2 separate regions of the Homo sapiens genome follow, and region 2 is linked to region 1. The links come from fine-mapping of genetic effects on gene expression. A gene starts in region 1. The other region holds a variant in brackets. All regions are shown on one strand. Distances are between the middles of the regions. Region 1 holds the start of PAX8 (paired box 8). Region 2 holds the start of PAX8-AS1 (PAX8 antisense RNA 1).

The links. PIP is the estimated chance that this variant, and not a neighbour inherited with it, causes the effect.
Region 2: its variant is fine-mapped to the expression of PAX8 in esophagus muscle (GTEx, PIP 0.94). The same link has a PIP of 0.9 or more in testis.

The regions. Positions count from the first base shown.
Region 1 is chr2:113,275,320-113,283,642 of GRCh38, forward strand. It overlaps PAX8 (paired box 8), which reads right to left and starts at 3,602. Exons shown (of 12, transcript NM_003466.4): 1 at 3,512-3,602; 2 at 3,051-3,150. The coding sequence starts at 3,075. RefSeq lists a promoter at 3,075-4,204.
Region 2 is chr2:113,231,407-113,239,729 of GRCh38, forward strand. PAX8 (paired box 8) reads right to left here. Exons shown (of 12, transcript NM_003466.4): 8 at 5,195-5,315; 9 at 3,988-4,176. It overlaps PAX8-AS1 (PAX8 antisense RNA 1), which reads left to right and starts at 4,863. Exons shown (of 6, transcript NR_015377.2): 1 at 4,863-5,216. RefSeq lists an enhancer at 3,760-3,949 and a silencer at 4,200-4,279. The variant TCC/T (reference allele first, on the strand shown) is at 3,817.

The sequences.
Region 1 (8,323 bases):
CTTGAAACAAAGATGAATTGATGAACCCCAATACCTCTTTATGTTCCTCAAAGTTGCTTCCATCCCCTGAAACCTTATTTTCAACCCAGGCAGGAAACCTGGGAAGAAAACAGATCCTTTCCAAATGCATTTATTCCACTTTCCTCAATTCTAAAACCAAGAGTTAGGAATGGGGCTTTAGATCTCACATCAGGGAAGTTAGAGACATCGTCCTCTGCCTTGTCTTATTTTACCACTTGAATGAACTATTTTCGGGACTGGTGGGAGTGGGCTGCGACAAGTTATTTAAGATAACTTTTAATGACAGCCAGCCTGCTTGCTTTTACAAAACTCTCTTCCTCATTGGTACAGTATTGTTTTCACTTTTATATATATGGGGCATTTATCGTTTCTTCTGCATCTTTGAATTTTTTTAAAAATGTTTTTGCTTTAGAGAATTTCGTCCCTGATGCAACAAAAATAGCGATTTTAAGGAACGTTCAGCCCATCGCTGACCTGCGCACGTTAAAATGATTCGCGTTCAACATTCCTGCAGAATAAAGCTGTAGGAAAGACAACGTTAAGACTCTCTGCAAGGCAAGACCAGCCAACGACGAGGCGACCCCGTGGCAGGCTGGGCGGCGGAGGCCGCGCGGGGAGGTTTTCTCGAGCGTCCCCGGTTATTGGGAAGGGTGCGCTCGGCCTCGCTCCCGCGGAAAGCCGTGTGGCCGCCTGCGTCCCGGGCTCTGCTCACAGAAAACTCAAGGGGAGCTCCCTAAGCACGGCCGGTCTCAGGAACAGAGGTGCCTGGGGAAAAGGGGGAACCTGCTAAAACCCGAGAGATAATGGGCTTGTAAAAACCAGAGGGGTCCGCTTATGAGTTTAGCTCCGGTTATAGACAACAGTGTCAGGTAAGCTGATCAGAAAGACAGACGGCCTCTCCCTCAGGTTTGCCGAGGGAGGGTTCAGAAAAGAAACAGGGAGCGCCTTCAGCAGTCTATGCGGTTATAGGCCATTTTCTTGTTTTATTAGCGTTTAAATTAAACTATGAGAAGAAAGTCTCATCTTCCCTCCCTCGCCACTTTGTCTATTTGTTTTGGAAAGAGGGTAGAAGAAGCCCCTCTGTCTTCCCGAAAAGAAGAAAGGGGAAAAAAATTACCTGGTAGGTCCAGGGGCAGAGGGCTCCCTCCCAAAACCCAAGCGCGATTTGCATCCAAGCTAGTGGGAAAGCGCGCATCTCATCATCTGGGACTGTTCCTGATTAAAACTACAGTAAAAATAAATTGTGCCTTTATTTATTCTTTCCATACTCTATTTCCATCTATTCTAACGAGTACTTCTAGAATGAAAATAAGTAGCCGCGAAAAAAAAAAAAAGCTCATCTGAGGGACGGGGACATCGTCTCATTTCTTGGGCAGCGGCAGAGAGTAAGGGTCCAGCCCGGCCACAGTGAATTTGATTTCCGAGAGCACTCACTCCTCCTGCCACCGCCGGAAGGGTCAGGGGAAGGTTAGGAGGAAAGATGGACCTCCAGAGCCGAGCAGAAGTGCCATTGCACCAGCTTGGCGCAGAAGTGCCATTGCACCAGCTTGGCATGGGCACCGGGCACTGCACATTAGGCCTCAGGGATGGTCCTGGCGATGTCTGGTATCGTACCACGGTTTGGCTAAAGATTAAGGGACTAAAACCTGATCCTGACCTTAGATAGTGGCCTAGGAGCGCTCGTGGTTCCAGGACGCGGACCGTAAAGAGGTGCCAGGGAGCTCTGCTCGGTCCCAGGGCTCCCCAACCCCGCCGCGCCGGGGAATGGCTGCGAGGTCTCTCCCCTGAGGACCTTGAAGGGACCCCGCGCCTTCTGGGGGCAGCCGGACGATTCTGGCCCAGGTCTCTGAGGGGAATGGGGGCCGGGAGGGAGCATTCGTCTGCAGCTCTAGAGAGAACCCGAGTGAGAAATCTTCCGGCGCCCCAGGGGGTTCCCGCTCCCCTCCTAGTTGGGCCATGGCCCTGGGACTGGAGACTGCGCCGCAGAGCCCGGGCCCCCGCAGTGCGCTTGGCTAAATAGAGATCTCAGCCTCGCTGCGCGCCCGATCCGACCCTCCTTATTATAACAAATGTCCCGTTTGCAGAGCGGGACATCATATTCGCGGAGAATTCATTCTGAAATATTGATTTCCTCTCACTTCGCCGGCCCAAATCGATAGCGATGCGCCCTGGCCCCATAAATCGCCTTCTCTGCGGCCGGCCGGGCTCCATCCATCACTGCGGGCCGCGCTGCGCCTCCACCGCTGTCCGCACTCGCTGCGCGCCGGGACGGCTGCGCCCACCAGCCCTGACCCTGGAGCTCCTTCCCAGCAAAGACCCTGCCCAGCCCTGGCCGGGAAGGGGGAAAACAGGCATCGCGGCCTGGGAGCTCGAGTGTGTTTGAAGGCCCTGCTTCCGGGCGCAGGTGGGGAGGGGGTTTTGACTCCGCGAGCGGCTTAGTCCTCACCAGCCGGACGCCCCGCGCGCGGCGCCCGGCCTGCCCGGTGCTGGGCCAGGAGGAGTCGGAGAGCACCTGAGTGCGCTGCCGGCTCCCGGGCCCGGGACCACCGGCTCCATTGCCGTTGGCTTGAGAGATGCGGGGAGCTCACAGTCCAGCCAGGGGAGTCACTGGGAAGGACTGCGCGCACCCGAGGAAGAGGACTTAGAGGTCGGGGACGGGGAAACGGCAAGTCCAGCACCGGTGCAGCCCAGGGACAGAGCACGAAGAATGTCCACACTAATGCGCCATGCAAGGCTGGGAATGGAGCTCAAAGGAAACCCCCTCTAACTCCACAGAGATCCCCTCACCGATCCATGTGGTCCCTCGAAACCGGGCAAGGGCGGCTCAGCTGGCCGGGTGGAACCCCAGTGCCCGAGAACAGCGAGGCGGCTCCAGCGGAGGGCCAGGCCCCAGGCGCCCCAGCTGGGTCCCCACGCGGGTGGGTCCCGCGAATCCCGTGCTGACGCTCTCGAGATCCAACCACCCGAGCGCACGCACGGACGCTCAGCGGCGCGGGGGCTCGGGGATCCTGACCACACCGCGTTCTTACCAGATCTGATGGAGTTGTGAGGCATCGCCGGGGAGTCGCTCGCAGCCCGCCGAGGGCTCGGGGCTTCCTCCCGTAGGTCCGGGCCGCGCCTGCCGCTGCCCTGCACAAACCCAGGAGAAGGGCATGAGATGCGATGAGATTCGATGCCTGCATCCTCAGGCCCCCTCCCCAGGCCTCATCCTTTACACCTGCATCGTCTGCCAGGAGTAGGAGGATTTTTAGGCGAAGTAGGGCCAACCTCAGCCTAGCCTAGCTAACAGGCTTCCCGGGAGGATCAAGGATTGGGAGTGCGCTGAAGAAGCTCCAGACTCCAACCTCCGTGCCCACTCCCTCCGCTGTCCCAGTCTTATCCCGTTTAACTTGGGAGGGAAAAGGCTGCCAGGCATCCTGGGACCCTCTCCTTTCTTCCATCCCCCGTCCTCACTGCTAGCCAGCTTCCAGCTAACCCCTGGGTGACATACCTGGCCGGCCGGCTGCAGGCCCTCACTGCTTGGGTCCGCCCGCGAGGGTGCCCTGGGCCCGGTGTCTCTCCTCCTTCTGAAGTTTGTTCCCATCCACCCGGCATCACCGACCGGTTTTATCCCGCTGAGGCCCTGGGAGATGGGTCTGGCGAGGCTCGTAGGCCGCGGATTGGCTGGCTGGGTGCAGGGGGGTGCGGGAAGGGGAGGATTTTGCAAGGGGGACATGGCTGAGTGGACTCAGGAGTTAGAAACATTCGCTGGGAGCTTCTGTTTCCAGCGGAGGGAAGAGGGAGGCAGCTGAGCCCTAACTCAGCAGGCCTGGAAATATTGGAGGAGTGGGGAACAGAGGCCTAGGAGCCTGAGGATGAGGTTCTCTGGGTCCTCCTGGGTCACTGACCACCAGAAGTGAGAGGGATGGTCTCTGTAGGATGCCCTCCTTGCCCCCTGTCTCCCCTGGTTTGCTCACCAGGAAGCAGCCTTTTCTTTTGTAAAAGGAAGGAGGGAACTTCTGTTTTATGCCTGATTCTTTAGGTAGAGCCTGCTTTCGGGGCTGTAGGCAAGATGCTATTACCTTCTCACCACAGCTATGACCTCTTCCAGGGAAGAATCCTGAGCAGCACCTGAAGCCATTCCCTCTGTTCTACACAGATAGCGTTCACACCCTTGCATTGTCAGGCTAACAAAATTGTCACATAACCCATTCCACAGCAACTCCTCGCCTCTCTCCTCTGGAACACACACGCAGCCACCTGCCCTCTTTCTTGCTCCTTGAGGATTTTGAACTTGGAAGAAGAGTTCAGGGGAAGGGCATTGAGGGCCTAGACTTCATCTCTGTGTGGAAAGGCCTTAGAAAGGAACAGGACTGAGCTGACCTCTGGCCTGGTCTGTAGGAATCAATAGCCTCAGCAATATGGGGGCCTGGGTGTGGTTAAGAAGGGGTCCACTGGTGGGAATGATGGCAGGGTTGGTGAGCCCTGGGACCGAGCAGAGCTGCCTGGCACCTCTTTACCTTAGTGATGGCAAAAGCTGCCCCCTCCTTCCTCATAGTTCTCTCAGTCGGGGAACCGGGGTACACGTAAGATTGTGAGTGGGTATGAGTGAGCAAATGTCCTGGAACACTGGCAGGCCTGGGGGTCAAGGCCTGGATGCTCCTCCAATCTTTGGCCAGACCTCTGGACTCAGGATTACAGTCTAGAGGACAGCCATGCCCTTTTCAGTGATGGCTCTGCAGGCCTGGTGGGGTTGTTCTGGGACAGGAGGCTAAGAAGCCAGTGGGAGGGGGGCAAGGAAGGTGCAGGGGAAACTGGGATATTCAGGGGGATTGGATGTGTGTGTGTGTGTGTGTGTGTGTGTGTGTATGCACATATGTACACGTGTGTGAAAACACATGAACTATTTTTCTGAATTAAAAAAGTTTTCTCTTTCATGTCAATCCACAACCTCCTTCCACCCAGTCTTTCTCATTTCTCAATTTAGGAGAAATGAATCATCTTGTGAAAAAAGAGAGAAGAAGATGTGTATCCCTACATGTTTCCTCCACATTTGCAAAGAGGGGCTGTAAACAAAAATAGTTGGTGCTTCATCATTTTAAATCTTTCTCTAAAATTGTAATTTTAAATATCTCTGTGGTTTTCAAAGCTCCAGATCCCTAACTTCTCTGGCAGTCCCTCCCAGAGAGAGACAATCCAAGGGTGTTGGGATGGAAATGGATCTTGGCATAGGTCCTCCGGACCCCATGGGCCAGTTTGCTGCCCTGGATTGTGTCCTGCTGCAGGGGAGGTGTGGAGTGTGGCAGCCACAGCAGAAACTCTCTTTGTCCACCCAGGATTCCCTCCCACCAGGGAGGCAATGCTCCAGGGTGAATCTAATACGCCCTCATTTCAAACAGCTCTGACAACCTTAGAGATTCTACCCAATCTAAGGTTCTGATACGTACCAATAACCATTGACTCTCATGCAATCATTCTTGCCTGTGCACATCTTTTCTGCCCAAGCAATGAACCCTCTCCCTTTCCTATCCCCTTTTTGGGCAAAATTTCTTAGAGGACAAATCCAGCAAGTTATCAGAACATTCCTGTCCCATGTATAAATTTATCTTTAAAATTTCATTTCAAGGTAAAAACAATGTGCACTGTTCAAGGTTACTCCTCAGGGAAAAACACACCCCACACCTTGACAGTACCTCTTCTCCAGACTGCAGGTGACATAGCAGGTGACCAGAAGACTCAGCAGAGAAGATCTAGGACGAGCAAGAAGTGAGAATGCAGTGAACTTCTGCTGCAGAGATAAACACAGGCCTCCTGGACTGACCCTGCTTCTAATTAGAATCAGAAATCAGGCCTGGGTTCCTTGGTACTTCCTAATTCTCTGAGACCAAGGCCAAGGAAATGTCATTAACTGGTGCTTTAACTCTGTCTCTTTGGCATCAGTCTCCTCCTCTGCAAAACGAAAGGTTTGAAATACATATATTTTTAAAATCACCTATTATCACAGTATTTTTTCAAACTTAAAATCCATGATGCTTTTAGTTAAGAATAAAAATCATATGCCTTCCTATGATGATATTTGAAATTTTAAAATAAATTTGCACTGTGACTAATAGACTTTCAATGGGACTTTTAGAACTCTTTTTTTTTTCTTCTAGACTTAGTCTCACTCTGTCACCCAGGCTGGAGTGCGGTGGCATGATCTCGGCTCACTACAACCTCCACCTCCTGGGTTCAAGTGATTCTCCTGCCTCAGCCTCCCGACTAGCTGGGGCTACAGGTATGCATCATCATGCCTGACTAATTTTTTATATTTTGGTAGAGACGGGGTTTCACCACATTGGCCAGGCTGGTCTCGAACTCCAGACCTCAAGTGATCCGCCTGCCTCAGCCTCCCAAAGTGCTGGGATCACAGGCATGAGCCACTGTGCCTGGCCAGGCCTTAGAACTCACTTTTTAAAATGAATACCTCATTTGCCAACTTTTCTTCTCAGGCTTGAGGCCCATAAGGCTTTTGTGGCAATATTATCAACTGGCAACTAGTTATAATTTTTTTAAACTCAGTGTTTTTTTGAGAAAATGTAATTCATTGCCAATATCAAAATACAGAAGTAGAGACGAGAGACTAACTCTGCCTTGCCTTTGAAAATGCAAGAGATCTGGCCGCAGATCTGAGCGTTTCTTTGTGGAAATGAACATTCTTTCAGGTTTAACATTCCAACAATCCTAGGTAATTGCCTAACTACAGTGGTTTTTGAATTTGCATAATATCCCACAATTTGTTTAATTCTATGCTGATCTGCTGAGCCTTCAAAAGATGTTCTTTCTTTTCTGGACTCAGCTGTAATGCACTGGGCTGGTGGTAGGGTAATAAAGTGCCCTGGTTTGCCCTGGACGAAAACCAACAGTGTTTTCTAGATGCGAGTTAAAACTGGGACTTTCCCGGGCAAATCAGGATGAATTGGTCATCCTAGCTGATTAGAGTGTGGGAGTGGGATGGTTTGGGGGTCTTTTATAAGCTGCCGTGTTTCAACTGACTATTGGGTGGGTGATTGTTTGCACACTTGGGTCATTCTACCTGCTGGCTCAGGTGACTGAGACCCTTGAACTCCAGTAGGTCCATGAGCTCTTCCTCTTACTCCTATGTACCCTGGTTTCTCTGGGCACAATGCCCAGAGACCAGCCTCGAGGGAAGACCACTGCTCCCAACAATCCTCCTGGCTTACTTGCCACCATGCCACTTCCCCTACGTAACGAACCATTGTTGGGACTAAAGTACATCCCTTCAGGAAGAAAACAGCAGCTCTCTACTTTGCATCAGAGGTGAGTGTTCCAGCCCTAATTGTGTAGAATGGGATGATTTCTTCTGCCCGAACCTCAGTTTCCCCTTCTGCATGATGTGGATATAGACGGGGGGCTGGGGAGGGTCAGACCCACCTCGTAGCTTTGTTGTGAGGACGAATAAAATTATGAATGTGAAGGCCCTTTGAAAACTACACCTCTGTACAAAAGTTAATTATTATTAGACAACAAAGGCAGAGGAATACATCCAAAGAGGGCAAAGTTAAAATGTCCCTAAAGTTTTGCTGTGGAAGTCGGTTCCTTTAATCCTTTCCCAAAGGAGCCTTGGAGAGGAAAGGGCCAGTGAGCCCGTGCCTGTGGGTGCAGGCGTGGGTGCAAGGGTAGCAGTGGGGCAGGGGTGTCTGTGAGGGCAGCAATTAACATTCGTTGACCCAGAGAGAGGGGAGAGTCAATGGCAGAAGGCCAGCACCCCAGCAGAACTTCCAGCAGCGACTTCATCATTTTGCAGAGGGCAGAAGTGTTCAGGGCACTGGCAGTTTTCGCTCCACCCTCTCCCCTCACAGACTTGCCCAATCCTGCCGAAGCCACGTGGGATTTCAACCCTGTCCCTGCACTCAGGAAATGGCCGACAGCCTGCCCTGGGGCCTCCTGGTGGCAGTGCCTGAAAATCAATCATTAATTATTCCAGGTTCTCCACCTCCCTAGGCTTTGAAAACTCAGAAATAGAAATATAGGTCCTGGCAGGTGAAAGGAAAAGAGCCACTGGTTGGGCTGCCGAGGGCAGTTTGGAAGAAACCACTGGTGGCATTTGTCCAGTTGGTTTGGGTAGGGATGTGTCCTGGGCACTTGTCCCTTGGGCTCTTTGCCCACCCCACAGCCTTTGGCAGCAGTTGCCTGGGCTTCTGGAAGGAGACCCTGGTACTTACAAATGGGTGGAAAAAAAACTTCCTGGGGACACAAAAAGGAAGGTGACAGAGGGAGATAAAAGGATTGACGTACACAGCTCAATTTTTTTCTCTAGTAA
Region 2 (8,323 bases), 44 kb before region 1:
TATTCCCCAAACCTTGCTGTTTCTTCTTTCTTGGCTGACTGGGGATGAGCTGAGACTCAGAAGGATAGTCACCTTGGAAATCACACTATCAGAGCCACCAGGCGGAAATAAGTGACCCAGAGAAAAACGCTATGAAGTAGTGAAGGAGTTGCAGGAGGCGGCAGCGAGGGTCCTTGGGAGTCACTCAGAGGCATGTGGAAGATTCACGCGGGTTAAAGCTGAGCTGATTATGGAATGAAAACTCACTGTGTCCTCTCTCCTCTCTCCTGGTCTGCAGCATTACTTAGGAATAATGTGGCCTCAACTTCCTTCTCTTTCTTTATTATTTTTTTCTTTTTTGAGATGGAGTTTCGCTCTTGTTGCCCAGGCTGGAGTGCAATGGCACGATCTCGGCTCACCGCAACCTCCGCCTCCTGGGTTTAAGCAATTCTCCTGCCTCAGCCTCCCGAGTAGCTGGGATTACAGGCATGTGCCACCACGCCTGGCTAATTTTGTATTTTTAGTAGAGATGGGGTTTCTCCATGTTGGTCAGGCTGGTCTCGAACTCCCGACCTCAGGTGATCCACCCACCTTGGCCTCCCAAAGTGCTGGGATTACAGGTGTGAGCCATTGGGCCCAGGTTCCTTCTCTTTCTTTCAAATTCACCTCTTCTTGGGAAGGTCTGCAGCCTCCTGCGCTCCTGGAACCATTCCCTTCCTAACCTTCCCCACCGCCCCCCGTCATGTCCTCCCAGCTCTCTCACCATGGCTCAGCCACGTGTTAGGTATTGAGATCCAGTCTTGACCAGAGGCCTCAGGTGGACAGTCTGTAAGGAGCTCCAGGCCAACACCCTGAGCTCAGCATGGACACCAGCCATCCCCTCCCTTGTGCCTGAGCTGCTTTCTGACTTGCTTCCTACTCTTGGCCATTTGCCTGGACCCCAGATCCTCCAAGGCTAGCACTCCTCACTCTTTTCAGAGCCTCTGCCTCTGTGCTGAATTGTCAACCCTTGGGCTAGGGGGCCCTGTGACCAGCCAGCAACCTTCAAAGTGCTCACACCTGCACTTCAGCATCATCTGGGCCTGGATTGGGGGCCACCAGCCTGAAAGATATGCCGGTGCTGCATATTTGGCTGCCTGCTTCCTACATGACTACCTGGTGTCTGCTGCCAGCTGTTTTGTCCCATGGGTTGGGTGACCTCTCAGTCCTGCAGTTGGCCTGGAGAGTGGGCATGTCCACTAAATTAACAGCTGACAGTAGTTGGAGGCGTCACCTCTGATTGACTGCATGTTGACAGGGGATGCTAACAGGATGACAGGGAGGGGACAAAGTGTAGGGGCTTTGGGAGTAGGGAGTTTGCCCTGGGCTGTTCCAGTTGCACTTTACACTACAGCCTATGTCTGCACTCTGATACATCTATCCACTTCCAGCTGCCCTACATCCTTCCCTCTCCTTCAGCTGGTCTTGCCAAGCTTCTCCGCGGCTTCCACAGCACCTGCTCCCCATCATCATGGGCACCACCACACCCTCACCCCTTGCCTGCCCCATGACCGCCGCCAGCTCTAGCCTGCCATTCTCAGAAGACATGCAGGCTTGCGTAACTCCCTGTAACTGACATGAACCTCTTCTCCTCACCCCCTCCCCTCCCCTCCCCTCCCCTCCCTTCCCTTCCCCTCCCTTCCTCTCCACTATCCTCTCATTCCCCTCCCTACCCCGCATCCCATTTTCTCTGGCTGACATAATTTTACTCAGCTCACAGGTTTTGCTCTTTTCATCACTTTGGTCAAAACAAATGACCCATCTCTGCTGCCTTCACCCTCTTGAATTCTTGAACTCCAAGTCAACTCCTCGCTTTAGACCCTTAAACACCATCTCTCTGCCCACACACTGGATGTCCCTCTCTTCTAAGGAAACTTCTCACATTAGGTGCTGGGATGTACGGAGGAAAAAAAAAAAAAAACCCGGGTGCCAGCCAGAAAGAAAATGTAGAGCCAGTTATAAAAAAGGGTCCATGGGCTGGGTGCAGTGGCTCACACCTGTAACCCCAGCACTTTGGGAGGCCAAGGTGGGCGGACCAAGGTCAGGAGATTGAGACCATTCTGGCTAACATGGTGAAACCCCATCTCTACTGAAAATACAAAAATTAGCCGGGTGTAGTGGCGCCCATTTGTAGTTCTAGCTACTCGGGAGGCTGAGGCAGGAGAATCACTTGAACCCAGGAGGTGGAGGTTGCAGTGAGCTGAGATCGCGCCACTGCACTCCAACCTGGGCAACAGAGTGAGATTCCATCTCAAAAAACAAAAAAACAAAAAAAAAAGGGTCCAGGGACTTTTATCACATGACCCTGTGGTTACTCTGGGCTTGTAGAGGTCTTAATCCTCTGGTGCAGTGGTTTCGAAGTCCAAGGGCTTTCTAGGGGCAGGGACCCCTTCTAAAAGAGCAGTTCTTCAGGGGTCTGGTGAGCATACATGTCTTCTGTAAAAGGCTTCATTTCAAGAGAGCATTGAGAGGCCCAAATTTGAAACCACTGGTCCAGATGGACTGTCTGACTCTGGGCTGCCTCTGTGACAGGTCTCACACACCCCACCCACGCACTGGTCTCTGCTCCAGCATTTCAAGGTCGTCGGGGTAGGAGGGTGTGGGAGGTGAAGAGGCATTTACTTCTGTCACTAAATACCCACACTCCTTGGAGACAGTGCCGCTATTAAAGAGATTCCTCCAATGCTGAACTGAGAGCTAGCTGGCTTCCTTCCCTGGTCCTGGGCCCCCACTGGGCCCACATCTAAAATAGTCCTATCCCTGTGGAAGCCCTTGAGGTATCTGAAGACCATATGGGTCTCTGCTTCCCACTTTCACTGCATCTCAGGCCCTCTCCAACCCAAGCCAAGCGCTTGACTCTCAGCCATTCCTCAGGCCCTGGCTGGATGAGCGAAGGTCCTTCTGCCAGGAGGAGCCAGCTCCCCTTGAGGTCTGACTCATGCAGTGCAGGCCCAGGCCTCAACCAGCTACAGATGGTGCTCCTGCCCAGAGACCTTGGCAGGGACCTTCTCCTCCCTGGGCCAGGTTCCTCATCAGCATAAGAGGTTTGATCTAGAGGCTCCCTCAGGTGCTTCCAGATTTACTTATTTTTATTTATTTGTTTTTTTCTTTTTTGAGATGGAGTCTTGCTCTGTCACCCAGGCTGGAGTGCCATGGCGCCACCTCAGCTCACTGCAACCTATGCCTCCTGGGTTCAAGCGATTCTCCTGCCTCGGCCTCCCCAGTAGCTGGGATTACAGGTGTCTGCCACCACACCCCCTAATTTTTTGAATTTTAGTAGAGATGGGGTTTCATCATCTTGGCCAGGCTGGTCTTGAACTCTTGACCTTGTGATCCACCTGCCTCGGCCTCCCAAACTGCTGGAATTACAGGGGTGAGCCACCTCGCCCGGTCGGTGCTTCCAGCTTTAAATATTTTGAGGCAGTTGAGGTTCCTGATGGGAGGTCCCCCACTCCTCTCAAGTTGTTGAATCACTGAATTTATCATGTTTAACAGATGTCTGACTGTCCTCCCGGTGATGCTGTTAAGCTAGGAATGAAGATAGCTGCATCATGGAAACACAACTGGGACTGACCCTTGGCCTTTTTAGAAATTTGATCCAGAAATGGGCTCCAAAAGCCAATTCCTTTTTCCCTCCAAAATGTTCATTTTTCCTTCTATCTATTTATGCATTTACCAAGGCCAAGTTGCTACGTTACAGCACCCGGCTCCCGGCCTTAGGGTTCCTGCTTTTCCATGGGGTCTTGGGGTGGTGCATCCCCGGCACCCCTACAGCATCCGCCCCTTCCGAGCATGTCT[TCC/T]CCGTCACAGAGAACTTCATGTTGGCGCCTCCAAAAGTTGCCGGAGGAATTAGGGAACAGGGTGGGGGTGGATGAGACTGAGGCCAGAGAGGGGGCTGGCGGTCTGCCCTGAGGACCCCCGTCCCACCCGCCGCCATAGCTGCATGGCCCCGGGACCTCCCTGTCGTACCTGAGAGGAGGGCCTGGCCCGTGAACTGCCCGTACACGGAGGCAGCATGGGGAAAGGCATTGAAGGGCGGGACCCCGGAGCCGACTTGCTGCAGATCCAAAAAGGCGGAGCTAGATAAAGAGGAAGGGGTGGAGCTAGAACTGGACACCTCGGGGGTTTCCTGCTTTATGGCGAAGGGTGAGTGAGGATCTGCCGGAGGGAGGGAGACAACAAGGAGAGAGGGGTGTGAGATGGCGGGGAGGGAACACGCACAAGCCAAGCCGTGGGATGTGGAGGGTGCGGGCGGGGCGCGGGGCAGGCTCAGCTGCCCTCAGAGTCTGGGCTGGGGAGAGCCGGGGCCCACGAGGCGTGGCAAGGCGGGGAGAGAGAAGCTAGACCTCCCTGCTGCGCTTCTGCAGCGAAAATGGAGAGACCCGGAAGGCGTGTGTGCGCCCGCCTCTCCCACAGGAGGGAGCGCGGAGACCCGGGAGCGGCCTAGGACCGGAGGCGCGACCCCTCGGCCCACCTTGAGGCCCGGCCTAGGACCGGAGGCGCGACCCCTGGGCCCACCTTGAGGCCCGGCCTAGGACTGGAGGCGCGACCCCTCGGCCCACCTTGCGGGAGCCGCCTAGGACCGGAGGCGCGACCCCTCGGCCCAGCTTGAGGCCCGGCCTAGGACCGGAGGCGCGACCCCTCGGCCCACCTTGCGGGAGCCGCCTAGGACCGGAGGCGCGACCCCTCGGCCCACCTTGAGGCCCGGCCTAGGACCGGAGGCGCGACCCCTGGGCCCACCTTGAGGCCCGGCCTAGGACTGGAGGCGCGACCCCTCGGCCCACCTTACGGGAGCCGCCTAGGGCCGGAGGCGCGACCCCTCGGCCCAGCTTGAGGCCCGGCCTAGGACCGGAGGCGCGACCCCTCGGCCCACCTTGAGGCCCGGCCTAGGACTGGAGGCGCGACCCCTCGGCCCACCTTGAGGCCCGGCCTAGGACCGGAGGCGCGACCCCTGGGCCCACCTTGAGGCCCGGCCTAGGACTGGAGGCGCGACCCCTCGGCCCACCTTGAGGCCCGGCCTAGGACCGGAGGCGCGACCCCTGGGCCCACCTGGCGGCCCGGCCGGCACAGCCCGCCTCTCCTCTCCAGGCCAGGGCCCCACACCTTCCGCCTGACAGCCAGCCAAGCTCTTCAGTCCCCCGCCCTCCACCTGCCAGGGAGGCTCCGGGCGTTGTACCTGCCACCACGGGGTAGGTCTGGTGAGTCGAGAGGTTGCGCCCCAGTGGCGTGTTGGAAGGGGTCAGGGTGGCCTTCCCGTCGTCCAGGGTGCTGTTGAGCAAGGGCAGCGGGTAGAGGCCCTGGGGAGCAAAGAGAAGTCAGCGCACAGAGACGATCCAACAAGCCGACCTTCCTGCAGACCCTGAGCCTGTGTCTTAGGACTTGGCAGCCCTCATCTCCCCAGGAGAGGTCCTCATCGCCCCCTTCTTCCTTTACGTTCTCAACTCCACTCGGCACGTTTCGTTCATGCTCATTGTCCTCCCGCATCCCTGGAATTCAAGGCCAGCTGGTAGCATGGGTGCCCAGACGTGGGATAGAGAGTCTCAGCCAGAGGACCACACCCTGGTTGGATGGCTGGTCGGCTTCCTGGTTTCACCACACTGTTGGGACCCACAGAATGCAGGACGGTGCCAAGGACTGGAGCAGTCTCCAACCGGACTGTTCAGGGTCCTTGCATCTGTTAATTTATTCTTCCCCAGATAGGAAACCCAGGCACAAAGGTTTAAGAAACTTGTCCCACTTCCAGATGGGCCAAAGATAGGATTCAGATTCGAGGGATCAGAATGTGTCTGCTCTCAACCACTGCCCTAAACTGGGTGACATAAGGACCACTTCTTACATTTGCAAAGAGCTTATATCAGAGCTTTGCCTCTGTTGTCCTAGTAGAGTCCCCCAGCAGCCCAGTGACATGGGTGAGTAATATTATGTCTGTGTTTTATATGTGGAGCCTGGAACTCAGGTAAATGGCCCAATTTTGTATAGTGAAACAGACTAAACCCGGGATTTTTCGGCTGTGGACCCAGGTGCTTTACCCACCACGTGGATTTCTTCTTTTCTCTCTCCACATCCAAACAAATAGAAGTGTGCAAGTTCGGCTTGAAAATGGTATTGAGAGTTGTTTTTGTTGGAAACACTCTTTGTCAAGTACCTGGGGGTCTTCATCAGTAAGACCTCATTTTAGATGCCTCCTGGCCTCCCCTTCCCAGGAGCACAGCTATGACCTTAGGTACTCCTTCCGAAAAGAACTTGTTTAACTAAAGGTAAGTGTACCTCATCCTCACCATGGCCTCCTTCCACTGGGGAAGCAGATAGCGCAGAAAAAAGAACACACCCATTCCCCACATACCTTCACACTCGTCACATACCTGCTACGTGAGATGTGCAAAGCTGAATTCAGGGAATGCTCAGTAGTTACATAACAGTGCCACTAAAGGCAATTGTTTTCAGTGATTTCCATCGAGCTGGGTTCTGCAAAGATCCACAGCACTTTCCGGTTGCATGCTGGGCACTTTTGGAAGCTGCAGTCAATTCTGGAGGCCACCAGGGCACCATTAGCACATAGCAGCAATTATTGACTAAATGGTGCTCTGGTTCCATGCCTTCCAAGGGGGCCCACTTAGAGGCAGGGTGGAGTTGCTTAGGGCCTTTTTTTTTTTTTTTTTTTGTAGACGGAGTTTTGCTCTTGTTGCCCAAGCTGGAGTGCAATGGTGCGATCTTCGCTTACTGCAACCTCTGCTTCCTGGGTTCAAGTGATTCCCCTGCCTCAGCCTCCCGAGTAGCAGGGATTACAGGTGCGTGCTACCATGCCAGGCTAATTTTTTGTATCTTTAGTAGAGACAGGAGTTTCACCATGTTGGCCAGGCTAGTCTTAAACTCCTGACCTCATGATCTGCCTGGCTTGACCTCCCAAAGTGTTGGGATTACAGGCATGAGCCGTTGCACCTGGCCAGGGTGTGTCTTATTGAAATTGAACAAAATACCTAATTTCTAGAGCGTATAAGAGAAGTTTAAAATGCTTTATGGATGTGTTGTTTTGACAGCAAAATATCTACTCAGAATCCTATAGCTATTTCAAAATCCAAGTAACTTAGAAAAAAAGGAAAAAGAAAACCTATATAGTCAAATCTTTTGGTGATTTTGTATTCAATGACTGAAACTTCCCAGTGATTATTGGGCTTTTTAGCTGGAATTGAACTTGAATCGGGGCAGAGCAGCACAATGCTTCAGAACTTCAGCGACTCTGAGCCCTGGTTCTGCAATGACCTGCCAAGTAGCTTTAGTCTACTTGACTGCTCTGAACCTTAATTTTCTCACCTGTATGGGAATCATAGACTCTACTTTATGAGGCTGACGTAAGCATTACATGAAATTTTGTATACTTATACATAATGTGCTTAGCACCGAATACTTGGTGACAGCAGATGCCCAATGAGAGTTATCACAGATATTATTTCAGAATCGTGAAGAGTCAGAAGCCACCAAATTCTTGATTTCTGTCAATAAACTGATATTCATATTCTGTTGATTTTTTTTGATGCATTTGTAAAATAGGGAAACAAGAGCTGTATGACTTCTAGCTATGTCTGGTCATGAAATAGCAACCAGGAATAAGGCCACATGATGTTTCTGATGAACACTTCCCCCTGCCCTTTTTTTTTTTTTTTCAGATGGAGCCTCGCTCTGTCACCCAGGCTGGAGTGCAGTGGCACAATCTCGGGTCACTGCAACCTCCGCCCCCCAGCTTCAAGCGATTCTCCTGTCTCAGCCTCCCGAGTAGCTAGGATTACAGGTGCACGCCACCAGGCCTGGCTAATTTTTATATTTTTAGTAGAGATGGGATTTTGCCTTGTTGGCCAGGCTGGTCTCAAACTCCTGACCTCAGGTGACCCATCCACCTTGGCCTCCCAAAGTGCTGGGACTACAGGTGTGAGCCACCATGCCTGGTCCCCCACTTGTTGATTTTGCAGAAAAGATAGCTGTGTTACAACCTGTCCTAAGGTCAGGTATGAATACTTGTGCTTCTTTCTTGGCTCCCCAAGCCAGAGGGCATTCCTATGCCCAGGTGAGAGAGCACGGAGTGTTACTTTGGCAGCACAGTCAGTTACCAGAGGTAGGAAAAGCAAAGGCCAGGCAGGACATGAGGGGCCCTTGCACTGGCTGGTTCTCCCTGCCTTCACCACCCTCCAGGTGAATGACTGGGTGAATAATGATTGACTGAGGAGGTAATGAATAATTTATGGACACTGCTGGACCTCAGTCTCCTCATCTGAAAGATGAGTGGTTGGAGAAGTTTAATGGTTTTCAAATG